Linked DNA regions of Homo sapiens. The protein of the gene in region 2 purifies or fractionates together with the protein of the main gene of each other region. This does not show direct contact. Each region holds a gene or a part of one and is shown on either strand. Other genes may lie near its edges.

What was found.
Region 1: the proteins of SNX20 (region 2) and ENOSF1 purify together in Homo sapiens (affinity purification with mass spectrometry; 2 studies listed by BioGRID and IntAct, with this or other methods). This does not show direct contact.
Region 3: the proteins of SNX20 (region 2) and DIRAS1 purify together in Homo sapiens (affinity purification with mass spectrometry; 2 studies listed by BioGRID and IntAct, with this or other methods). This does not show direct contact.

Annotation. Positions count from the first base shown.
Region 1 is NC_000018.10:708,717-718,910, forward strand, and holds the start of ENOSF1 (mitochondrial enolase superfamily member 1), read right to left. Parts: upstream 3,915-10,194; 5' UTR 3,872-3,914; coding exon 3,788-3,871; coding exon of another isoform or gene 3,644-3,787; intron 1-3,643. UniProt on the Homo sapiens protein: Plays a role in the catabolism of L-fucose, a sugar that is part of the carbohydrates that are attached to cellular glycoproteins.
Region 2 is NC_000016.10:50,670,524-50,679,871, forward strand, and holds the end of SNX20 (sorting nexin-20), read right to left. Parts: intron 7,013-9,348; 5' UTR 7,004-7,012; coding exon 6,874-7,003; intron 5,399-6,873; coding exon 5,247-5,398; intron 3,552-5,246; coding exon 2,883-3,551; 3' UTR 1,106-2,882; downstream 1-1,105.
Region 3 is NC_000019.10:2,713,153-2,719,806, forward strand, and holds the end of DIRAS1 (GTP-binding protein Di-Ras1), read right to left. Parts: intron 6,326-6,654; exon of another isoform or gene 5,160-6,325; coding exon of another isoform or gene 5,127-5,159; intron 4,724-5,126; coding exon of another isoform or gene 4,655-4,723; coding exon 4,058-4,654; 3' UTR 1,415-4,057; downstream 1-1,414. UniProt on the Homo sapiens protein: Displays low GTPase activity and exists predominantly in the GTP-bound form.

The DNA.
Region 1 (10,194 bases), on a different chromosome or scaffold from region 2:
AGTGAAGAGTCTGGGAGGGAGGAATATCTCAGGCAAGGTAGCAGCAGCAGCAGTGCAGAAAGTAAAGGGGTCAGAAGAGGGAGAGACTGGAGTGTATTCAAGTGTTGGTGCCCACCTGGGTTGGCTGAGCCATTGGGTTCCTGAAGGAGTTGAGCGATGAGGCTGAGAAGGAGACTCCAAGAATTAAAGACCCATCGGCAGTTTCTGGGTTCCAAGAAGAGGAAGCAATGGAAAAAGGAAACCTTGCACTGAAGCCTCAGATGAGGGTCAACAGGACGAGATGAGCCAAAAGTGACTCGAAGCTTTTGGGTCCCTGTGATTAGCGGAATGATCCAACATGGGTCAGGAGGGAGGGGCGGCAGAGAATGGAAGTTGACTTCCGATTTAGACAAACTGCGTTTAGCATGAAGGTGAAAAACCAAACAGGAAGTATCCAGACCTATAAGTTAAGGAGGCAGATCCGGAAATGAGATCTGGGAGTCTCCGGCATAAAGGGTGGCACCGAAGTCAGAATGCGGAGAGGGTCTTCATGGGAGTGTGTAGGGAGACCGGAAAGACACTGAGGCCTGAGCCTCAGAGAGGGAAGAAGGGGCCAGTGGAGGAAGAAGGAGCTGTCAGAAAGGCAGGAGGCCACGAGGGGAGAGAGCACACGAAGAAGAGGCAGCCGACAGCGGAAAACGTATCTGAGGGTAAGGACAGCTGAAGGAGAAATAACAAGGGCAATTCACAGAGAAGAAAGGAACAGAAGTAGATTTCAGATTAAGAAGGAGGTAAGCCCGGAGTAGTGGCTCATGCCTGTAATCCGGCACTTTGGGAGGCCGAGGCAGGTGGATCACCTGAGCTCAGGAGTTCGAGACCAGCCTGGACAACATGGTGAAACCCCGTCTCTACCAAAAATACAAAAATTAGCCAGGTGTGGTGGTGCACACCTGTAATCACAGCTACTCCAGAGGCTGAGGTACGAGAATCATTTGCATATGGGAGGCAGAGGTTGCAGTGAGATGAGATTGCACCACTGCACTCCAGGCTGGGCAACAAGCGAGACTCTGTCTAAAAAAAAAAAGCAGGAGTCTTTAGCAGATTTTGAGGACAGCTTTATTGCTCTTTCTTGAAAATATCCTACTTCTGATCAGGGAGGCTCACTTTGCTAAGTGCTGATGGTCCAGCATGCCTCGAGGGCATGTGAAGCCATCTCCATGGTGAACTGCAAAACAGCTCATTCTAATAAGAAGGCACTTGAGAGCTGGCACACAACATACACCCTATCTCCCCAAGATAAAATGCTTAAGTATTTATGAGCTTGCAATACAGGTGTTAGATAATGTCTCCTTACCCTGTGTTAGACATCACTCAGGCCCAGAGGCAAATTCCATTTCTTGAATTATTCTACAGTAAACCAGGCTGTCTTTTGAGACAGGGTCTCTCTCTCTCACCCAGGCTGGAGTGCAGTGACACAATTACAGCTCACTGCAGCCTCGACCTCCTGGACTCAAGAGATCCTCCCACCTCAGCCTCCTGAGTGGCTGGGACCACAGGTGCATGCAACTACGCCCAGCTAATTTTTGTATTTTTTTGTTGAGACGAGGTCTCACTATGTTGCTCAGGCTGGTCTCGAACTCCTGGGCTCAAGCGATCCACCTGCCTTGGCCTTCCAAAGTGCTGGGATTATAGGCTTGAACCACCACGCTCAGCCAAACCAGGCTGTCTTAACATTTCACAAATTCAAAGTCAAGTCTAGATTAGGGATTCCTTCTGCTTCAGTTTCCTCAGAGTGAATAGTAATTACAGCCACCCCTCCTTTTTTCTTTAGAAACAGGGTCTCACTGTGTCATCCAGTGCCCAGGCTGGAATGCAGTGGCATGATCATAGCTCATGTAATTGAATTCCTGGGCTCAAGTGATCCCCCTGCCTAGGCCTCCACTTAGGATTAGAGGTGTGAGCCCTCATGCCTGGCCTATAGCCAACTTTACTGACGGCCTTCTCTGAGCCAGGCTCTTTACAGGTATCTCATTTACATGTATAAAGTGAATATTATTATACCCATTTTACAGATGAGAAACCTAGGCTTAGAAAGATTGTGTGACTTAGCCACAGCTGCTAAAGCTTCACAGAGGCAAAGGCAGTTGCATGAGATCGAGTGTTTGGATTCTATAAGCCAGTAAAATTTCCAACATTTATTTTGAGTTCCATAAAGGATTGCCTGCTGGGTGTTTAAGTTATTTACCAACATCATGTAAGAAAGGAAACATGAAGATTTTAAAGAGGATGACAGCCTGGGCCCTGTCTCTACAAAAAATACAGAAAGTAGCTGGGCATCATGGTGCACACCTGTAGTCCCAGCTACTTGGGAGGCTGAGGTGGGAGGATTGGTTGAGTCAGGGAGGTCAAGGCTGCTGTGAGCCATGATAGTACCACTGCACTCCAGCTTGGGCAACAGATAAGAGACCCTGCCTCAAAATAAATAAATAAATAAATTTAAAACATAAAATAGAATAAAATAAAAATTTAAAAATGCAGGATGAACTTAATCTCAAAAAGGACATTGTTTTGCATTTAATAACTTTAACGAGAGATCTATTTTTATAAAACATTTCAGGTACAAAAAGAGTATAGATAATGTAATGGACACCAGCTTGCCATCCACCCAATTTAGGAAGTAAAACATTACAATGGGAATTAGAGACCTCGTGGTCCCCTCCGTGACCCCATTTCCTTCCCTCCCTACTGGTAACCATTTTCCTAACATTGCCGTTCCTCACTTCCCAGCATACTTTCACACATTCACTACATACCCATACAACTCTGCTTTTCTAGCGCGGCCAATCTCATCAGTGGACTACGAGGGGCAGTGAGGACCCAGTGGGGAACAGGCTCCCTGAAAACCCTGCACAGAACCCACTGTATTTGGGAAACACCGCTCTAGACGGGGGCAGGGGAGGGAAGGCCTGACATTCTAACACCCTCAGTAAGCAAAAAAGACCTTCAATATTTAGGTAGGAGTCAGAGTTCCTGCCCTTACTTTATTACATCTCTTAAGACGAACTGACATTTGCATCAGTCCTTTCTAAGCGTGTTTGCGGGTAATTTCACGAGAGCGCCCTCTCATGTGACGCAGTTAGCACGCGCTTGGTTTCTCAACCCGACTGTGACACCTTCATTACACAGACGGGTCCAAGAGACCCAGAGAGGTCTGGAACTTCTCCAAGTCACACAGCAAGTTGTGGAAGCGGGATCACCACTCAAAACTCCCAGCCCCGGGCTTCCCGTTCTCCCTCAGCGCCAACCCCGTCGCGTTCAGGGTACAGAGGAAGCCAGCGAGCGCTGTGCTCTAGGGTTTCCACTGGCGGGAACCCAACAAAATCATTTTGCTGCTATTGCCTATTATGCATTCTACCATTTCCAGCAAAATGTGAGTCGTAAAAGTAAAACCAGGATATTCTAAACTCCAGCAAAGAAAAAACCCAGGAGAGTGGAAAGTTTCTGGATACTTATACAATTGCTCCAAGGCATGAAAAGCGAGTGTCTCCCCCAGGCGCGCCTCCCACTTTACAGAAGCAATGGGTTCGAAGTCGGGAAGCTGCCCGGGGCCCGCAGAGCTGCAGTCGGCGGGGCGGGAGGGACCCGGGCCGCAAGCCGCGCGTACCATGGCGTCCGCGCTTACCATGGCGTCCGCGCTTACCATGGCGTCCGCGCTTACCATGGCGTCCGCGCTTACCATGGCGTCCGCGCTTACCATGGCGTCCGCGCTTACCATGGCGTCCGCGCTTACCATGGCGTCCGCGCTTACCATGGCGTCCGCGCCGTGGCCCCCAAGCGACGTGGGGAAGCGCACGTCCCGGACCGAGAGCCGGGAGATCCTGCCGCGCACCATGGCCCCTGCGCCCCGTGGCCGCGGCCCCCGTGCGGTCAGGACTGGTCGGGATCCCGAGCGCGCGGCGGGAGGGCGGGAGGGCGGGAGCGCGGCAGCGCCGCGAGGCGGGGCACCGTCAGGGCATAGAGGGCGCTCATTGGCCGCGCGGCCGCACCCCGTGAACTTGGCCCCATGGGAGCTGCAGTCCCAGCTCCGGGCTCCCGGGGGCGCACTCCGCCTTCCGCCGTTCCCTTCTCAGCCTAGACGGAGCTGACCCCGAGAGGGTTCGCTCAGGGTCGCCGGGGAACCTGGGCAGGCAGGAGGCCTCGCGCCCGGTCGGCGCCTCCGCGGGACCCTGCTCTGCTCGGATGGAAGACTCGTGAAGGGACCTGCCCGGGAGCCGCGCCCTAGAGGGAGAAGTCGGGTCTGAGCGAGTGCATTCGCTCAGCGGCAGATTCCGGCCAGTGGCTCAGCTCCCAAGCCGAGGCCGCTGGTTGTCGCCAGCGTACCCAGGAGAGCGGTGCCCTAGAAAATGCTAGGTCTCTTTCAGTGCCCACAGCCTCAGTTTGCCACCTGATAAATTAAGAGGCAGGTCATCATTGATTACACCCGTACTGATGCAGATGAGGTCCCCGTACCGTGCCTCAGCCTGTAATCCCAGCACTTCGGGAGGCCGAGGCGGGCGGATCACCTGAGGTCAGGCGTTTGAAATCAGCCTGGCCAATACGGCGAAATCCCGCCTCTACTAAAAACAAAAATTAGCAGGGCGTGGTGGTGCGCGCCCGTAGTCCCGGCTACTCGGGAGGCTGAGGCAGAACTGCCTGAACCCGGGAGGTGGAGCTTGCAGTGAACTGAGATCGCGCCACTGCACTGCAGCCCGGGCGACAGAGCAAGACTCCGACTCAAAAAAAAAAAAAAAAAAAAAAAGATGCTGGGCGGCTCACGCCTGTAATCCCAGCAGTTTGGGAGGCCAAGGCGGGCAGATGGCGAGTCAGGAGATCGAGACCATCCTGGCTAACACGGTGAAACCCCGTCTCTACTAAAAATACAAAAAATTAGCCGGGCGTGGTGGCGGGCGCCTGCAGTCCCAGCTACTCGGGAGGCTGAGGCAGGAGAATCGCTTCAACCCAGGAGGCGGAGGTTGCAGTGAGCCGAGATCGCACCACTGCACTCCAGCCTGGGCGACAGAGTGAGACTGTGTCTCAAAAATAAATAAATAAAAAGAAATAAAAAGAAAATCCAAAGTAAGCAGAAGAGAAGAAATAATAAAAATTAAAGCAGAAACCTGTGAAATTGAAAACAGGAAAGCAACAAAGAAAAATCAATGAAAACAAAAGCTGGTTCTTTGAAAACATTGATAAAATCAATAAGCCTCTAACCAGGCAAGAAAAGAGAACGCAAATAACTAATATCAAAAGTGAAATAAGGAACATTACTACAGATCCGACGGACATTAAAATGATAATAAAGGAATACTATGAATTCTATGTCCACAAATTTGATAACCTGGATGAAATAAACCAATTCCTTGAAAGACACAATCTGCCAAAACTCACACGAGAAGAAATGGACAATCTGAATAGGCCTATATCTATTAAATAACTTGAATAAATAATAGCCTTCCAAAAACAAAAAGCACCAGGTCCATGGTTTCACTGGTGAATTTTACACCAAACATTTAAGGAAGAAATTACAACAATTCTCTATAATCTATTTCAGAAGATAGAAACAGCCACAAACTGACTTTATGGTGAATGATTGATGCTTTCTCCTTAAGATTTGGAACAAGGAAAGGATGTCTGCTTCCACCACTTCTATTCAACATAGTACTGCAGGTTCTAGTTAGGGTAATATAATAAGAAAAGAAATAAAAGGCAGATTGAAAAGGAAGTAAACCTGTTTATTCTTGGATGACATGATTATTCATCTTTGTTGAAAACTGTCTTCATTGGACTTAACGAAAAAAGCTACTGGAACTAATATTGAGCTTAGCAAGTTTGTAGGATACAAGGTCAATTTAAAATCTATAGTTGATGTGCTAGTAATAAAAAATTGGAAACAAATTAGAAAACAGTATCTCTTAAAACAATTGCATTGAAGATATAAAACAGGACAAGTTTAACAAAAATATGCAAGATTTGCACACTGAACTATAAAACATTGCTGAGAAAAAAAGATCTAAAGAAATGTAGAAATGTAGAGAAATTCATATTCTTGGATTGGAAGACTCAATATTGTTAAAATAGCAGTTCTTCCCAAATCGAACTACAAATTCAATGCAATCTAATCTAAATCACTAGCAGGATTTTTTTGAAGAAATTGACAAGTTGATTCTAAAATTTATATGGAAATTTGAATAGCCAAAATAATCCTAAAAAAGAACAAGGCTGAAGAACTTAAACTACTTGGTTTTAAGACTTGCTATACACTAATCGAGTCAATGTGAAATTGACATAAAGACAGACAAGTAGATCAATGGAACAGAAGAGGTCTTGAAATAGTAAAAATACAAAAAATTAGCCAGGCGTGGTAGCACGCGCCTGTAGTCCCAGCTACTCGGGAGGCTGAGGCAGGAGAATCATTTGAACCCGGGAGGCGGAGGTTGCGGTGAGCTGAGATCGCGCCACTGCCCTCCAGGCTGGGCGACAAAGCGAGACTCCGTCTACAAAATAAAAACAACAAAAAAAAACAGGGGCCAAGAAAATTCAACGAGTAAGCTAATCTTTCCAACAACTGGTGCTCGAACAATTGAATATCCATAAGAACAAACAGAACAATCCTGGATCATTACCTTATATCATACACAAAAATCATCTCGAAGTGGAATATAGATCTAAATTTTAAGAGCTAGAATTACAAAACTTCTAAAGAAAACACAGGAGAAAATCTTTTTGTACTTGGATAAAGCAAACTTTCTTAGGACACTAAAAGCATGAATCATAAAAGAAAAACATTGCCAATTAAATTATCAACATTAAAAATGTTTTCTCTTTTATGAAAACCATTAAAGAAATGAAAATGCAAGCTGCAGATTGGAAGAAAAATATTTGCAAAACATATCTGTTAAAAGGACTTGTATGCAGAATACTGAAAAAATTACAACTCAGTAAGATGGCAACTTGATATAAAAAATGGGCAAAAGACTTTTTAATAGACATTCCACCTAAGCAGACATATGAATTTGAAATAAGCTTATGAAAAGACTCAACATTATTAGTCATTAGGGAAATGCACACTAAAACCACAATGATGTACTACTAACACGCACCAGGATGGCTGCAATTAAAGTGACTGGCAATACCAAGTATTGGCAAGGATGTGAAGCAGCTGGAACTCTCATACATTGCTGGAGGGGTATGAAAGGGTACAGCTTCTTTGGAAAATAGGTTATCAGTTTCTTAGAAAGTTAAGCATTCATGTATCATACAACTCAGTAATCCTACTCATAGGTAATTATCCAAGAGAATTTAAAACCTATGTTTAAAATAAAAACTTGTATTTGAATGTTCATAGCAGCTTTATTTGTGATAGCCTAAAACTAGTAACAACCTAAACATCCATCAATTGGTAAAGGACAAAACCAAGATGTAGTACACATCCACACAATGGAATATTACTGAGCCATAAAAAGATCTCAAAAGCATTATGCTAAACGAAAGACATCAGACACAGTGACTACATATGATTCCATTTATATAAAGCCCTAGAAATGTACAATTATAGTGACAGAAAACACTCAGTGGTTGACAGAGGTCAGGGGTGAATGGAAGAGATTGACTGTAAAAGGGCATAATGGAATTTTCTGAAATGATGGAAATGTTCTATGATTCTGGTTTCATGGTGGTTTCATGGCTGTCTACATTTGTCAACAACTCATCTAGTGGTACACTTAAAATGGTGAGCTTTGTTGTATGTAAATTATACCTCAATAAAACAAAAAATGTTGCTTTGGGGTGCTGCCTCCTCTTTGAATTTGATTCTAAGTTTGAATTTTCTTTGAAATTGCACTTAAAACTCTGCGAAAATGTTCTCTTGTATTTCTTTTAGATTGGGTTTCTTCTGGTTCCACGAATTTTTCAAAATTTCTGCTGAAGTGAAGCCACCCTTTTCTAACTTTCTAGCAATGGTAAAGATTACAAAAACCAACCAAACCAAGTTTGCCATCTAGTTCCATGGTATATCCTCTCAATGTTTTAGGAGACTAAGACTTTCCATGAAAATAGTGCAATTATGAGTGAATAAATGGAATTTGATAAACTTTAAGGGCCACACCACTTTAATTCAGTTATTAGAATCACTGTCAACCTTTTTGGCCAACTGCGAAGTTTTTATTTCTCTCATCCCTATTGTCACAGGCTAGTGACAATTTTTTACTTGGATTTTCAAAGTCCTCCAACTTACTCGTTAACTTGACCTTTAAGATAGAAGTGAAGCTGGATTGAACCCCTACGCCATGTCCCTGTGAAATCCAGTGTCTCTCCAAGTATCTCTGGAAGTACTTGGTGAACTTTTCTCCTACTTACCTGATTTATTTCCTGAATTTATTTCCCCACTGCGTTTAAACTAGGTTATGAAATCCATCCCTATCCTTTTTTGTACCTTGTCATTGTACCTCTGGCCGTGACCCCAATCCCTTTTCTTTCCTAAAGGTCACTGACTCACTGTTATGTGTAGCTGATTTGCAGGAAGGTTTGGGGTAGCAAGGACTCTGCAAGCAACTTAAAATTGAATACCGCCATCTGCTTCTTAAAGGTCCCAGGGACCATTCCTGCTACTGGATAAATTTCACATATTATCTATTTAGCTTTTATTGTTTTACTAAGTCTTATTTCTAATTTTTTTTTTTTTTTTTGAGACAGGGTCTCATTCTGTCACCCAGATTGGAGTGCAGTGGTGCAATCACAGTTCACTGCAGTTTCTACCTCCTGGACTCAAACAGTTATCCCACCTCAGCCTCCTTAGTAGTTGGGACCACAGGTACGCACCACCATGCCCAGCTAATTTTTGTACAGATGGGGTTTCGTCTTGCTGCCCAGGCTTATCTTGAACTCCTGGGCTCAAGCGATCCTCCAGACCAGGCTCCCAAAGTGTTGGGATTACAGGCATGAGCCACTGCACCCAGCCTCCTTCCTATACATTTTAAAATTCAACTCATAAATTATTATTGAATTGCAGTAAAACAGCTAATTGAACATTCTGTCCAACAGTTTTGCAACAAATGGTTTTCTAATATTGGAAAAATAGACATTGAAAAACTCTTTTAAAAAAGATTCGTTTTGGGGCGGTTGTGGTGGCTCACGCCTGTAATCCCAGCATTTTGGGAGGCTGAGGTGGACGAATCACCTGAGGTTAGTAGTTCGAGAGCAGCCTGGCCAACATGGCAAAACCCTCTCAATTAAAAATACAAAAATTAGCCGGGCATGGTGGCACACGCCTGTAATTCAAGCTACTTGGGAGATTGAGGCACAAGAATTGCTATAACCTGGGAGGCAGAGGTTGTAGTGAGCCAAGATCACACTGCTGCACTCCAGCCTGGGCGACAGAACGAAACTCTGGGGAAAAAAAAAATTGGAGTTTTCAATATTTCCAAGATTTGGTATGCTCTCTCCACAGTTAATAGTCTTGTAACTTTACATTTAATACAATGTTGCATATATTGCTGAAGTTTTGTATACACAGCACTGAAAATGTTTTGTATAAACTGTCACTTTTATGTGATAATTTGAGTTTCGTATTTTCTACTGATACAGCTGTTGGTATAATGAGTATCAGTCAGGGTCTCAACTGGAAGCAGATGGCATGCTCAAATTAAGATAAATCAAGAGGCCGTGCAGTGGCTCACACTTGGTAATTCCAGCACTTTGAGAAGCCAAGGTGGAAAGATTGCCTGAGCCTAGGAGTTTGAGACCTGCATAGGCAGCATAGCAAGACCTCATCTCTAGCAAAAATACAAAATTTGCTGGGCATGGTGGCCTGTGCTGTACTCCTAGCTACTTGGGAAGCCGAGGTGGGAGGATCCCTTGAGCCCGTGAGTTCGAGACTGCAGTGAGCTATGATCGTGCCACTGCACCCCAACCTGGGCGACAGCGTGAGAGAGATCCTGTCTGTAAAAAAAAAAAAAAAAAAAAAAAAAGCAAATCAAGGATATTTATTTACAAAGAGGTGGGCAGGTTAGGAACCACAAGGATTAATGCAGTATTAGTAGCAGCAAAACTGTCATCACCCCTGAGGCAGAAAACATATGGAATGGAAGCTGCTACCAGTCTCCAAAAGGAGGTGTATTAGGGAGGCCATATTGAGAACGTCCGGTTGACTGAAGGACATAGCCAGCCCAGAGTCTCAAG
Region 2 (9,348 bases):
GCCACCACTCTAAAGTCCCCTAGAAACAAGGACTAATACAGGTGGCGTGGGAGAGGGCCCAGGCAAACAGGGAGGTGGGGTACCCCGGTGGGGCTGCAGTGGGCCCTGCGGAAAGCTTGCTGGAGGTGGGGGCCTAAGGAATTCAAGGACTTGTTCCAGGAACCCAAGGAACGAGTGGGCTCTAACTGCTGCAGCATATGGGAGATGCCAGGAGGAGCTGGCTGTGGCAGGCCATCCCAGTCCATCAGACAACTTGTAGTGGATGAAGATGCAGTGTCCATGGCCAGAAGAAACTCCCGTGGATGCTCAGGCCAAGGCTGCCAGAAGCACGAGGAGGGGCAGCATTGAGTGTCATCGGGAAAAGGCAAAGTGATGGTCCTGAAGCTGCCCCATGTGGCCAGTCCCTTTTTGGGAAGCCTGAATAAATCCATTTCCTGTGCACTGTGTGGGAAGCCAACCCCTCTTCAGAGGTACTTATGGGGAACCCCCCATGTGATTCTATAGGCTCCTTTACTCCCATATAAGTATTTTCTCTCTGTGTGCACCCCCCGCCCCACCCCCCCAACACCCCACACATATCATCTATCTGTGATTTTGAGATGACTTTTTTTTTTCACATTTCAGCACCTCTGAACTCAACAGGATCCTACACTTCTTATAGGCCTGGCTTGATGCTGACATCCTTCAGCCCCAGGGAAGACCTAAAGATCTCCAGGTCTTGAGGCACCTGGAACACCTCCACCTGAGACCACTTTAACATGATTTCTCTGCTTGAGGGATTTTGGACCATGCTGTGTGTATTCAGCCCTAAAACATGGGCGAGTGCCCGCTTGCAGTTCAAATTCTCAGAGGAAGTTCCCTGTACTCCACCCAGTGCCAAGTTTAGTTTGTGCAAATTTCCTTAATGTCCCCTCCTGTACAACAGGCTTATTTGGTGTTAACCCTCATATCGGGGGTCTAACTCTTTGCTTTTCCAGCTTTTGTGCTGGAATATCCCATTAAACTGTCCATGTTGGGTATTTTTTCTTTGTTAGTAAACATTTGTTGCATATTGTTGATAGCATTTTAGATTTGAAGAAATAACTGACAAAATCAATATCATCTGTTTCATCATTACAAATAGACTCATAGCTCTTTAATTTTTCCATTTAACACTTTAATTTTCCATAGGCCTAGATTTTCAAGAAGTCCAATATCTCTCACTTGAAGTGTCTTTTCCCTGGAGTAGATTGGGAGATTTGAGGGATATCTGTCCAAAGATGAGACAGTCTGTTTCTAGTTTCCCATCCAGCCTGATGGGGCGTCTACAGTTTTTACCACAAGGTGTCGCTGTTGAACAGATTCTGGTGCAGTCTAGTGCATAGCTGTCCACTTCTAGAGTGATCACTTGCTGGGCCAAGTTCCTCTCCTTAAGTGGTGTCTCACATTAAGGTTCCCAAATTACAGACTCATTAATTCACCCTAATAAGCTCATCCAGGCAGTTTAGGTCTTCAGGGGCTTCCAGCCTCCAACACACATTGGGCCAAAACCAGCCTGTACCACCAGCTCCAAGCCCTGTGTTGAATCTAGGTCATTGGTCCAGATGCCCCTTCATTCTGGGCCTGTGGTGTCCTTTCCAGACAGCAGACCTCAGTTAAGGGCATCCCAGTCCATCAGAGAAGTTCCAGGATCACAGACCCTCAAAAGGGGCAGTGTTGAGGATTCAGTCTGTTTTCTGCCCAGAGGCCCCATTAAGTATGTTGTATCACCTCCTCCCCAGGCTGTTTCTACATAACCCAGGGAAGCCATTCAGGGAACAGCTGCCTTATGAATGAAAATCCACCCCTAGACAATGTGCTATGCCATCCCAGCCAGAAAAATTGTTGGCAACTTCCCTTGCCAAAAATGCCTGGTATCACAGAATCTTATGCCATTATTGCTTTCTGGTCCAGGGTCCTCCCACCCTTCAAAAGGATGGCATACAACTCCCACCGTGTGTGTGTGTGTGTGTGTGTGTGTGTGTGTGTGTGTGTGTGTAGAGGCTGTTCTTGAGGGCAATAGGTGAGCTTTTGTTTTGCTTTGTCAGGTCTACATGGTAAGGGGGAAGGGCTAGAATACTAAGATAGTATTAGGATAATGGATGGAAATATTTTAAAGCAATTCCAAGGTGGAAGGAACAGAGAGAAAAGCCTTGGAGCAGCTGGAGAGAACTGTCTTCAAGGAAATGGACTAAGTTTTGTCTAGAATGTGTGAGGTAAACTTCTTCTCCAGCTTCCCACAAAGACACTGGTGGGGTGGACACTGCTCTGGACGGTTTTGGCAGTTGGTTTTGTGTTTTGGAGATGAAGTGGCCCTGGCATCAAGAGGACGTGGGACACAAGCAGAGGCTTCCAAGGGGTCCCAGGAGCACCTCTGTCCAATACAGATGGAGAAATTGAGGACCAGAGGAGGGGCTTGTCCAAAGTCACCCAGCGAGTTAGAGCCCCCAGTGGCTTTTCCCATTAAAAATGAACCCCAGGCCAGGGGTGGTGGCTCACACTTGTAACCCCAGTGTTTTGGGAAGCTGAGGCAGGAAGATCATTTAAGGTCAGAAGTTAGAGACCAGCCTGGGCAACAGAGAGACCCTGTCTCTACTAAAAAATTAAAAATTAGCCTGGTGTGGTGGTGTGCACCTGTAATCCCAGCTACTTGGGAGGCTGAGGTGGGAGGATTGCTTGTGCCCAGGAGTTTGAGGCTGCAGTGAGACATAATTGAGCCACTGCACTTCAGTCTGGGTGACAGAGCAAGACTGTCTCAAATAACAAAAAAGAAAAGGAAAAATAAAAAAAAAGAACCCCAAACAGCCCACTGTGAGCCATGGTGACCCCAAATCTCCAGCGTCCCTGCGGGGTCCCAGGCCGGCTCAGTGCAGGTATTCTCGCACAGTGAGCTCCTTCAGGGTGATGCCTCGGGGCGTGGGCCTCCGGAGCTGGCTCTCCTCCAGCCTCTCCTGCAGAGTCACGAAGTCCTTGCCCAGCGCGTAGGCCAGGCGGACCATGGCGTCCAGCAGAGGCGCATAGTAGCGATGGCCCTCCCGGGCCTGCAGGCGCTGCAGGGCCCTCTCTCCGGCCGCGAAGGCCTCGGCGGGGCGGTCGAGGTCGCGGTGGCACAGCAGCACGGCGCACAGGGCCGGGACGGCGGCCGCAGGGCAGTGGGCGGTGAGCTTCTCCTGCAGCGGCAGCACGCGCAGCAGCAGCTCCAGGGCGCGCGGGTACTGGCCGGCCCGCAGGCAGCCGAAAGCCTCGCGCAGCTCCGGCCGCGTGAGGAAGTCCAGGAACTCCCGGGAGCGGCGCACGCAGCGGATGGCGTAGAGCAGGCCCAGGTACTCCTGCAGGGCGCGCCGACGCTCACAGATCATCTCCTCAGCGAAGTTCCCAGTCAGGTGCTTCCTGGGAAACTCCACGTCTTCGATCTCCTCCCTGAACGTCTTCAGCAGCGCTTTCTGGAGCTTCGCGAAGTCGGAATAGCGCCGTTCCAGGACGGCCTTGTTGTTGTCAAAGCTCCCAGTCTGGATGACGATGATTTGGTACACCTAGGGCGCAACCAGAGAGAGCTGTGGCCACCTCCCGGCGGGGGCTGCGGCGGACGGAGCACACCCAGAGTAAAGTTAACCAGGCCGGTGTAAAGCATGCCCTGAAAACGGGCGATCCTTATATGCAATTGTTTGTTTGTTTGTTTGTTTGTTTGTTTATTTATTTATTTATTTATTTATTTATTTATTTTTAGAGACAGGGTCTCGCACTGTTACCCAGGCTGGAGTACAGTGATGCGATCATACCTCACTGCAACCTTGAACTTATGGGCTCAATTGACCTGCCCACCTGAGCCTCCTGAGTAGCTGGGACTACAGGCACACCCACTACCTGGCAGATTTTTTGATTTTTTTTAAAAGATGGGGTCTGGCTGTGTTGCCCAGGCTGGTCTCCAACTCCTGGGCTCAAGCGATCCTCCTACCTGGGCCTCCCAAAGTGCTGGGATTACAGGCATGAGCCACTGCACCTGGCCCAATTCTGTTTTAAATTGCTATTGGCATCAGCTGAGTCAACCCTGGAACAACAACACAGCAAGGTGGGGACATCTGGGAGGAGAAAGGGCAGAGGGTCCTGCCCTGCAGGCTGCTGGGGTCCCTCTTGGCTTTACTTGCTAAAACTGGGCCTCTGTTTTCTGAACTGAGATGCTGTGTTTTCCAAATGTTTCACACTTGGGAATTAGTTTTACGTACAATATAACATCATTTAGGTACACTGGTGATGCCGTTATATGGTAAGAAAATCAATCCTTTTCAATCATCTTTCAAGAGAATCCTGATTACGGGCAATTATATATTAAGGGCAATTATAACCCATGCATCTGACTCCAGAGCCAGATTGCATGGGTTGTAATTATAGCCCTACCATGGTCTAGCTGTGTGGTTTTAGATGAGTAATTTAACCTCTCCGAGTCTCACTTTTCTCATTCATAAAACAAGGATAGGCATAGTGCCTACCTCACCCAGTGAGGATTAAATGAGTTAATGCACTGAAACCACATGGAGCTGTGCCCGGCATGCCATTGGCATTCAGTGGTAGCTATGTTATTTATCCCGGTCCCAGGTAAGTGAAGGAGAAGGATGAAGTGTGGCTCTTAGGCAGTCTTTAACATCCCTTAACACAAGCTAAAATTCCATTCTAACAGGGAGAGGAGCAGCTCCCAGGCACAGGGCTTTCCCGAAGCCACAGTAACCAGCTAGAATTTAATAACAGCACATAGCTTTCCTTGTATTGACTTTCCTTGTATCGACTTTTCTAGTATGTTACTTTTGCTTTGTGCCATGTGATATTGGTTTTCCATTTAAGGTATTTCTCTTTGAAATAAATGTGCTTCATGTTTTTAAAAAGTGATCCAATTTAAAGAAAAAAATAAGTAATAATAATTAGAACAGATACAGTGATATGGCAAAATTGGTGAAGAAAGGACACAGGTGACTGACACCTGATAAGATGGGATTAAACTGGGCTATTTCCTTCTTGGGACCAAGAAATATGACTTATATGGTTCGAATCCTCACAGACCCTAGCAGGTGCTGAGCCTGAAATCTTGCTCTTTGGCCATTTTCTCCAGAAGAAAGCTGTGAGTTAGTGTGTTGACCCATTTCATAGTTGGGAAACCTGAGGCTCTACAAGACTTATTCAGGGCCAGGAAGGAAGCAGAGTGAAAGAGGCTCCACCATTTCCCAATCTCTGCTTACCACAAACTTAGAGACTTTTCTCTCCTCGATGCGAGCTGAAGCGATCTCAAAGAGCAGTTTGACGTGCTTCCAGCGGCATTTCTGGTTCTGCCAGTACTGCTGAAGCTCCCGCGTGGTCATGCTGGAGTTGGAGCTCAGGCCACTGTGTGTGTCTGGAAGGACAACACCCTTAAGGATCTGCACCCTGTCAGTGCACTTCCGAGGCATGGGCTTGGGGAGATGGCTGGGTCTATCTGAGATGGCATATCAGAACTCCTGAAGAGTATTGAATATCCCTCTCTCCCACCCCGCCATTTATAGGCCCAATTGGGGCATCAGACAGACCTCTGTGCCCAGCCTGGCAGAATCCACCCTACCACCGACAATCCCAAATAGCCCATCACCCCCAAGTGGTTTCACAGCTTTGGAATGCGGTGCGGGCACTTTGCATCGTCCACTTCTGGTCTGTAGATTGGCCATGGTGAAATCCCTGCTCTGGACAAGCAGAGACGGTGGCTTGTGTGTTTCTGTGCTCCCTGCAGCCCTGACTTCGTGACTGTTGCCACGACTCCTTGAGCACACATCAGTGGGCAGGGGAGGCAGTGAGGAGGATGTTATGTTCCAGCCTCAGCGGGCTGGCCCTTCCTAACCTTCTCATCTAACTGCCCACATGCCGGGCTCTTCTCGGACGTGCACTGCTCTGCCTTGCATCCAACCCTCTATTTCCACGCCTGGAAAACGAACACAGTGTTTCTTAAACCCCACTTGAGCCCTGCGCCACTCTGAGGTTCTTAAGAAGCACAAATAATTGTGCATTTTATTGCAAAGGGCATGGGTCCCAGCCCTTTTCCAGTCTACCCTTCAAGACCCAGCCCCCACATCACTGCAAATGCCCCTTGGCATTAGAGTAAGAGCTTCCCACCTTGTTCCTACAGGTTTTTCATTTTATTTATTTATTTCTCGTGGCACGTGTAACTGTTTCTCACTGATCTGTTTCTCTACCAAACCTCAGGACTAGTGCAGTGTTTGATTTCTTCCTGTTTCTGTTTCTCCAGTGCCCTGCATAGGGCCAGGAACAGAGCAGGTATTGAATAGGGCATCTCGAAGGACTGTAAGAAAAGATCTGTTCCAGGAGATGGCACTACAGCAGATGCTGTCCATGCCCCAGGCTGGACCGTGCCCTCTTGGCACCCACTTTTCCAGAACATGCCACTGGCTTCCCTGAGGGCTTTCTAGGGCCATAGCAGCAGGCCCAGGAGCGTCCCTTCTCCTATGCAGGGCAGGACTGGTAGATAACAGCCCGGCTTCCTCACCCCTAGGATAGGACAACCCAGAGATATGTTCCAGGGTCTCCCAGAAGACCCCCGCTGGGGTTGAGCTTCAGCCACCTACCGTGCCTATCTGTTCACTGATGTCCTGCCCTGGCCTCTTGCCCTTTCCTTCCATTCCCACTCCCCTGCCATGACTCCTAGGACCGTCTCCCGGATAAACAGCTTGCACTAGATCTGTGTCTCAGTGTCTGTTTTGGGATAACCCAAGTTACAAGAGCTGCCCGGGCCTCTTGCTGCATCCCCCAAAGTGACCCACATTTGTACTTTGAATGTCTTCAGACCTCTCCCCCAGACCGAGTCTCAAGCCTCAAGCCCACCTAAGTGCCCGTCAGGTCCTGGGTGCGGGAGGTCGGGGCCAGTGGCTGGTGCTTCCTGCTGGGTCCTTGCCGTGCACTGGGTTATGGGTCCCATGCAGCCAGGGCTCCCAGGGTGCTCTGGACTTGCCATGCTCCAAGGCTGCCAGAGGAAAAAGAGAACAGTGAGGACCCACTCCAGTTGGGGTTCCCGGTGGCTCCTGGGGTGCCTAGGAGCTGTGTCATGCCCCCTCCTGGCAGGCAGAGGGAATGACAAGGGCCCCACGGCTCAACCTTCCCCACTCTCCCAGCTGCCAGATCCCAAATCTGGGTCTGCCCCTTTGCTGGGCAGGTTACTCCAAGGCAGAGAAGACCCTTCACCTATTGCGATGATCCATATGTTATTGAGGTGATCCTTACGTATTGCTCAGAGTTTTAAATGAGATGATTTCAAGTAAAAGTATTGGCTTTAGTGATTACTTGAAAGAAAGATGCTGGCTTGTCTAGATACTCAGTTTTATGTTACACATGCGAATGAAGTCTCAGTGTTCAAGTTGAACATGGCCACTCATGCCTGTAATCCCAGCGCTTTGGGAGGCTGGGTTAGAAGGATCACTTGAGCCCAGGAATTTGAGACCAGCCTGGCCAATGTAGTGAGACCCCGTCTCTAGAAAAAATAAAAAAAAATTATCCAGGATGCACGCCTGTGGTCCCAGCTACTTGGGAGGCTGAGACAGGAGGATCCCTTAAGCCCAAGAGACTGAGGCTGCAGTGAGCTATGATGATGCCACTGCACTCCAGTCTGGGTGACAGAACAAGACCATCTCAAAAAGAAAAAAAGAAAGGTCAGTGTTCAGAGCAGGTAGATACTGGTATGAATCTTCTATCGATCAATCAATCAATAATCTATCTATCAGCAAAATTAACTGATAGCTTATTATACCCACTTCATACCCATCTAGGTTCTCCATAGCCCCTAATCTAGTTTAATGCTCACAAAAGTCTATCATTACCACCACATAACAGATGAGAAAACTGAGGTCTAAAGTCACGCAGCTGGTGAGTGTGCGCAACAAGCAAAGCTGAATTTGTCTCCAGTGCTTGTGACGTGCTGGCTGTGCACTTCACACCCAGCACACACTCTTGCACTAACCTGAACACTGTCTGCACTCAGGACTGTTTACATCTCCCTTTTATGATAAGGGAACTGAGACTTAGAGTTGCCAAAGATGAGGAGCTGGTGAGTGGTGGGCAGGATACAGACCCAGGCTGGGCTGACTTCAGAATTCTCTCCACCTTACTCAGGGAGGGAGAACAGGCAGCTGGGATCTGGTTTACATAATAACTCTGTCTGTGACCCGGATAAGTGGAAGGGATGACCTGGTAGCTGGCAAGTGACTCAACTTCTCTGTGCTTCTGTTTCCTATAAATTGGGGATAATAACAGAACCCACGTTCACAAGGCTGGGGTGAGGATTCAGTCAGGCAGACTCTGAAGCCTCAGCTCAGGGCCCTGTCCATCCCAGGGACTGTGTAGTACCCCCGCTTTTAGTGTCTGTTAAGTGCTAGATGTTTCCAGAAATATTTGTGAAATAAATGACTAAATTAAGGTGGATTGGAATAGAATTACAAATGTTTGAGACAACTTAGAGAAAGGGACAATTAAAACATTAGATCGGCTGGAGGGAGTAGCTGGTATACTGACTGGTTAGGCATGGAAATTCAAGACAAGGAAGGTGCAAATGACCTGAGGAAGCTGCCAGTGGAACATAGAGGTAGAGCTGGGACTTGAACTCTGATCTGTTGGATTCTGGGCTCTTGGTCTGAACCCCTGGGCTGACTACGGCCTAGAGAAAGATAGAGCCAGTGCCTCCCTGGCACCCCCTGAGCACAGATGGGGGCGGGAGTCATGCATGTCCCTGAGCACAGCCAGCGCCTGTCCCTTGCTCCAGGGGTGAGAGCCGCTGGCCTGGGAGAGGGGAGGTCAGCTGGGGCCTGGAGCCTGCACTTCAGGGGGAAGTGCTTGCTGTGTCGGGTGAAAGGAACCCTGGGGCCTTCTCCGTTTGGCTCTGCACAGCCATCCAGTGGGCGGCCCTCAGGGACCCTCGATCCAACCTCACCTTTTACAGATGGGCAAACAGAGGCACGGAGCAGGGGCCTGGCTGGCCCAGGGCTGCACGTTCTTGAGCATGCCGTCACGGGCACCTCTCGCTTGTCTCTTGTGCCTGTCAGGGAGTCAGGAGACATCGCCTTCCATCCTGACCAACCGTGTGTCCTTAAGCAAGTGCTTTAATATCTCTAGGCTTCAGTTTCCCTACCTGATAAATGTGGCTACAAGCCCCGTCCTGTTGATAAGATGATGGATGACTAGGGGTGGGTTCCCTACATTCTGACTGGTGCCTAAGTGAGACAGTGGATGGTTTACGTGATTCTTGGTGGCTGGGATTCTTGGGGGCCCAGGGCACTCCTATGCTCAGCACTTCTGTAAAATGGGTGATGG
Region 3 (6,654 bases), on a different chromosome or scaffold from region 2:
TCCTTCATCCCATCCCTCACTTCCTACACCCATCGCCTCCTCCACCCTTCACCCCATACCTCACTTCCTACACCCATCACCTCCTCCACCCTTCACCCCATACCTCACTTCCTACACCCACCACCTCCTCCACCCTTCATCCCATTCCTCACTTCCTACACCCACCACCTCCTCCACCCTTCATCCCATCCCTCACTTCCTACACCCATCACCTCCTCCACCCTTCATCCCATCCGTCACTGTCTACACCGATCACCTCCTCCACCCTTCATCCCATCCCTCACTTCCTACACCCACCACCTCCTCCACCCTTAATGCCATCTCTCACTTCCTACACCCATCACCTCCTCCACCCTTCATCCCATCCATCACTGTCTACACCCATCACCTCCTCCACCCTTCATCCCATCCCTCACTTCCTCCACGCACCACCTCCTCCACCCTTCATCCCATCCCTCACTTCCTACACCCGTCACCTCCTCCACCCTTCATCCCATTCCTCACTTCCTACACCCACCACCTCCTCCACCCTTCATCCCATCCCTCACTTCCTACACCCGTCACCTCCTCCACCCTTCATCCCATCCCTCACTTCCTACACCCACCACCTCCTCCACCCTTCATCCCATCCCTCACTTCCTACACCCGTCACCTCCTCCACCCTTCATCCCATCCCTCACTTCCTACACCCACCACCTCCTCCACCCTTCATCCCATCCCTCACTTCCTACACCCGTCACCTCCTCCACCCTTCATCCCATTCCTCACTTCCTACACCCACCACCTCCTCCACCCTTCATCCCATTCCTCACTTCCTACACCCACCACCTCCTCCACCCTTCATCCCATCCCTCACTTCCTACACCCATCACCTCCTCCACCCTTCATCCCATCCCTCACTTCCTCCACCCACCACCTCCTCCACCCTTCACCCCATCCCTCACTTCCTACACCCATCACCTCCTCCACCCTTCACACCATCCCTCACTTCCTACACCCACCACTTCCTCCACCCTTCATCCCATCCCTCACTTCCTACACCCACCACCTCCTCCACCCTTCACCCCATCCCTCACTTCCTACACCCGTCACCTCCTCCACCCTTCATCCCATCCCTCACTTCCTACACCCACCACCTTCTCAACCCTTCACCCCATCCCTCACTTCCTCCACCCACCACCTCCTCCACCCTTCATCCCATCCCTCACTTCCTACACCCATCACCTCCTCCACCCTTCATCCCATCCCTCACTTCCTACACCCATCACCTCCTCCACCCTTCATCCCATCCCTCACTTCCTACACCCATCACCTCCTTCACCCTTCACCCCATCCTGCACCTCCCCACCCTTCTTGATCCTTTACAGGCGGTGAGCTGACACCCCACGCCCACCACAGAGACAGGGCGCCATGCTGGTGGGGAATGCAGGATCCACTTTTTTATTGCAGGAAGACTATGTCTAGAGCGAAGGCTACACAGACCCCACGATGGGGGAGTGGGGGCACCCACATGCGGGGGGAGAGGGGGCAGGGGCGGAGTCACAGCAAGCATGGCCTGGCACAGTCCCCAGCACCAGGGATGCCCAGGCAGGATGGGCCAGCAGCCAGGACAGGCTCGGGTCCCCTCCTATTGCAGATGCCCTCTCTCCCCAGGGTCGGGCAGGGCCTGAGGTGGGAGAGGCCTGGAGGTGGGCAGGGCCCCAAGGAGATTGTGCTATCAGGGTGTGTCCCTGAGAAAGGGCCGCAGACCCCTGCCCAGCCTCACTCTCTCCGGCACCTTCAGAACCCAGAAGCTACTGCCAGGACAGGAGAGGAGGCAACATCAGCTGCTGGTGGGCCCTGGGCCAGCCCAAGTTTTGGGGGGACCCAGCTCTGCTCAGACACAATGCCAGCTCTTCTGGGAGCCCGGTCCACGTGCTGGATAGCAACACACACGCACGTGTGCACACTCCCTCTCTCTGAGTGTGTCCAATAAACATTTGTTGAGTAAACACTCACACGAACACAGAGGAAAACAAACATGCTTGTACCAAATCAGACACGAGCAATCTGTTACCTACATAGTCCCACCTGGCCACATGACTACAGAGACACATGTGTGCAATCTCTCTCTCTCTCTCACTGCACAAAAGGGCGTGCGCACACACACACGTTGCTTCCTCACACCCAATAAGACCAAAACCTCCATCTCACCTTCCCTCACTAACTTAGCTGCCATGCTCCGAGCCCCGCTGTGGAGAGACCCACATGGTACAGAACAAAGGGCAGCTTCCAGCCAACAGCCAGCGAGGAACTGAGGCCTTCAGTCTTGCAACAGCAAGGAACTGAATGCTGCAACAACCACATGAGCTTCTAAGAAGCAAATCCTTCCCCGATCAGGCCTTCAGATGAGACCTCTGCCTGGCGAATGCTTTGATTGCAGCCTCCTGAGATCCCAAGTAGAGGACCCAGCCAACCTGCACCCAGGCTCTTGACCCACAGAATCTATGAGATAATAAGCATGTGTTGTTTCTGGTTGCTACATTTGTGGTCATTTGTTACACAGCAGTAGCTGACTGATACAGATTTGGAACCGAAAGTCACATTGCTAGAGTCATGTTGCTATAGAGTGGAACACAGATCGTGTCCCTCAATCAGGACAAACATATTTACAGATAAATGCTCTCAGATAAACCATATCACCCACTCCCCAAAATATAGTCATGCTCATACAGGCACAAAGATTCACACAGACACCTCACACATATCCAGTCTTGCTGACAACCACACACAGGTATCTACAACTACCCACCTCTCTGTATACCCTACACCACTATTACACACACAGACTGCCACAAAAACATATCATCCCAGACAGACACACACAGGTATACACGCAGATGCACTTAGATACAAGTCACCCATCCGCGCACCCCAGGTTGCACAAATACACCATTCCATAGCCACTTCCGTGTATGTTGGACACAACCCTGTGGGGTCACACGAGTGTGGTGTCACTCAGACTCTCTCAAAAAACACCCAGAACCTCATGGCTGCAGGTACACTCGACTCCAGGACGCCACCTTCCCGGGCAGGCCCTGCTCTCTGGGGCACAGGTGGTGGGGAGGAAGTGGGTGGGGCAGACCTCTGTCCGGGGCGCCCTCGGATCCTGCTGGTGCTGGCTCCCATCGGCTGTCCCCCCACGGGGGTGTAATTGATGTATCTCTGGCCGGGGCCCCGGGTACCCCCTCCTGAGCACCCCAGGTCCCCACCCGCCATGCGTTGCTAACGTCTCTGTCTTGGTGGAAGAGGCGGGTCCCGGGTGGGCGGTGTCCGGGAAGCCCCTCCACGCCCATGGTGCCTCTCCAGCGGGGCAGTTGTGCTGTGGATGTGGCTGGTCCCGGGGGTGGGATTCGGGGCTGGCAGGGGCACTGCTGCAGGCCCTGTGGTTATTGCCTGGTGGCCTGAGGCCCATCCCACGGGCCCCACACCCCACTGTGAAGACAGAGGAGAGAGGTGCGTCTGGAACCGGAGGAGTGGGCACAGATCAGAGGTCACGACGGGCCGGGTGGGCTTGGGTGTATGTTAACACCAAATAGGAGAAAAAAGAAAAAAATATCTGAGGCCGATGTGCATTTTCAACTCCCCCCTCCCCCAGAAGGTCACAGTGATCAAATGTGAGGGACAGGACGCGCAGGTCTGGCTGGGGACACCCCAGGGAAAGAGATGGAAACGGGGAAACGCAGCCTCCTCTGGTCCTGGTGGGAACAAGCAGCTCCTCTTGCCAGCTCCCCATCCTGTTTTCCCATCTGCAGGACAAGGGGGCCACCTCCGGCTCTTGGTTTTGGAGGGTACAGACAGAACAGGAGGGTGGAGAGAGAGCAGGGGAGGAAGAAAAGCCCCAGCCCTGCCTCGGGGTGGGCAGGGGCAGCGGAGGGGGGGGCGGTGGCCTCGGTTTCCCCAGCCGAGGTGTCGGAGGAAGGATGAGAGAAGAGGAGGAGGCCGAGGAGGGTGTCGGTGTTGGGGGAGGCAGCGGGGGTCAGTGGGGGTGGGCGGCGGGCAGGCGGGCGTTCCGGGCTCACATGAGGGTGCATTTGCCCTTGACGCGGTCTGTCCTCTTCTGCTTCCCGGAGCGCTTGCCGTCGATGTTGAGGCTCATGTTCCGGCGCGTCTCCAGCGTCAGCAGCTCCTGGAAGAGCTCCTTGACGTTGTAGTTCATCTTGGCCGAGGTCTCCATGAAAGCGCACTTCCACTCCTGGGCCACCGCCTGCGCCTCGCGCGTGTCCACCTCCCGCTGCGTCTCATCGCACTTGTTGCCCACGAGCATCACGGGGATGTCCTCCACGCTGCCCTTGATCTGCACGATGAGCTTGTAGATGGGCCCCAGCTCCTCCAGCGACTGCTTGCTGGTGACGGAGAACACCAGGATGAAGGCGTGGCCCTTGGAGATGGACAGGCGCTGCATGGCCGGGAACTGGTGGCTGCCGGTGGTGTCTGTGATCTGCAGCGTGCACACGCTCTTGTCGCAGCTGATCACCTGCCGGTAGGTGTCCTCGATGGTGGGGATGTAGGTGTCGCGGAACGTGCCCTTCACGAAGCGCAGCACCAGCGAGCTCTTGCCCACGCCGCCCGCCCCGAACACCACCACGCGGTAATCGTTACTCTGTTCCGGCATCTTCCCCGCGGCGGGTGGGCGGCCGGGGCCGGGAGGGCTGGTGCCAGCTGCAAGAACCCCAGACCGAGCCTGTGCAGAGAGGAGGGTCACACGTCAAAGGCCACCCAGGCTTGAGGGGACAGCCCCACGCCCCGGGGAGGGAGGAGGACATGGCGGCTTCTCAGAGGAGGTGGCTGCCGTGCCTCCTGCCTCCTGAAAAGGCCCATTTGCTTGTGGCTGACTTTGCAGTTCTGTCCCACAGGCGGGCGCACAGCCAACACCCTTTGCTTACTTCTCCCTAACAAAATCTGGGGCCTGAGCTTCCCCGGGGGACGCTGAGCTAGGAGAGGCGTGGGAGACGCCGGGATGCCCACGAAACTCCTTCCCCGGGTGTGGGTGTCCCTTCCAGGCTGTGCCAGCTTCCCCCTCTCTTCCCAGTGTGGCAGGGGCCCCTGGAAGCTAGCAGGCCTGGCTTCCACCTCTCGCTCCACACCTGCCTGGCTCTGAGACCTTGCCGAGCCATCATGCCACCCTGAGCCTGTTTGGTGGCTCAAACGGTGCCCGTCTCCAACAACCATGGGTCCCCTGCTCTTCCGCCAACCCAGAGATGGCCAATCCTCATGGAAGCCGCACATGGTCGGGTGTTTAAGATGCATATGTCAGGGCCGCAGCCCTAGGTGTGATGAATCGGTCGGCCAGGGCAACGGCCCTGGGAACTCGTATTTTATTTTATTCTTCTTATTTATTTATTTATTTTTAGACAGAGTTTCGCTCTTGCTGCCCAGGCTGGAGTGCAATGGCACAATCTTGGCTCGCCGCAACCTCCACCTCCCGGGTTCAAGCTATTCTCTTGCCTCAGCCTCCCAAGTAGCTAGGATTACAGGCATGCACCACAAAGCCCGGCTAATTTTATATTTTTAGTAGAGGCAGGGTTTCTCCATGTTGGTCAGGCAGGTCTTGAACTCCTGACCTCAGGTGATCCACCCACCTCGGCCTCCCAAAGTGCTGGGGTTACAGGCGTGAGCCACTGCACCTGGCCTTCTTATTTTTTTTAAAACCAAGTCTTGCTCTGTTGCCCAGGTTGGAGTTCAGTGGTGCAATCTCGGCTCACTGCAACCTCTGCCTCCTCGGTTCAAGCAATTCTCCTGCCTCAGCCTCCAGAGTAGCTGGGATTACAGGCATGCACCACCACACCCGGCTAATTTTTGTATTTTCAGTAGAGACGGGGTTTCGCCATGTTGGCCAGGCTGGTCTTGAACTCCTGACCTCAGGTGCTCCTCTCGCCTCGGGCTCCCAAAGTGCTGGGATTCCAGGTGTGAGACACCGCATCCAGCTGGAACTTGTATTACAGGGCTGCTCTCCTCACCTGCCATAAATGGGATCCTGAGGCTGGGAATCTGAGAACCACAATTTGCAAATCAGGGCACTGATTCCCAATAGCCGCCCCAGGGAGGAAGGGTCTTGCAGCCCAGGTGGGACACAAAAATACAAAATCCAGAAGCTGAACGGGAAAATCGCCACTCCCTAAACTCTAAAATCAAACTATGGCCTGGTGTGCCCTAGCCCCTCCCGTTCAGGTCTGAAGGATCCTTAGAATAGCACTTCCTGGGAGGGGCACCTCTTAGCCCCTCTCTTCCTTCTTGGGCTCAGAGAGGTCCAGCAGCCTGAGGAGGTCACACAGCACAGCAGATCCTGAAATGATGGAGGTGGGGGAAGAACGCTGGGGGGAGGGCGGGTGGCTTATCTCCAGAATTGATGTCCTCCCCTCCCCTTCCTCCTTCCAGGCTCTGGGGCAGCGGTGGGGGGTGGGGGAGGGGTGTTCCCCAGCAAGGTGGTCTACAGTGGGAGAGGAGGAGGAACCAGTTTCTACCTGCTGCACTGGGGGTGGGGGTGTGTTTATGGGGAGGGTCCAGAGGTTCCCCGGGGGTCAGTGGTTTGAACCTAAACAGGCAAATTCAAGTCCCTAAGCCTCCGTTTTCTCTTCTGTGAAATGCGAGCCACTGTTGGGGCAAGTAAGGTGA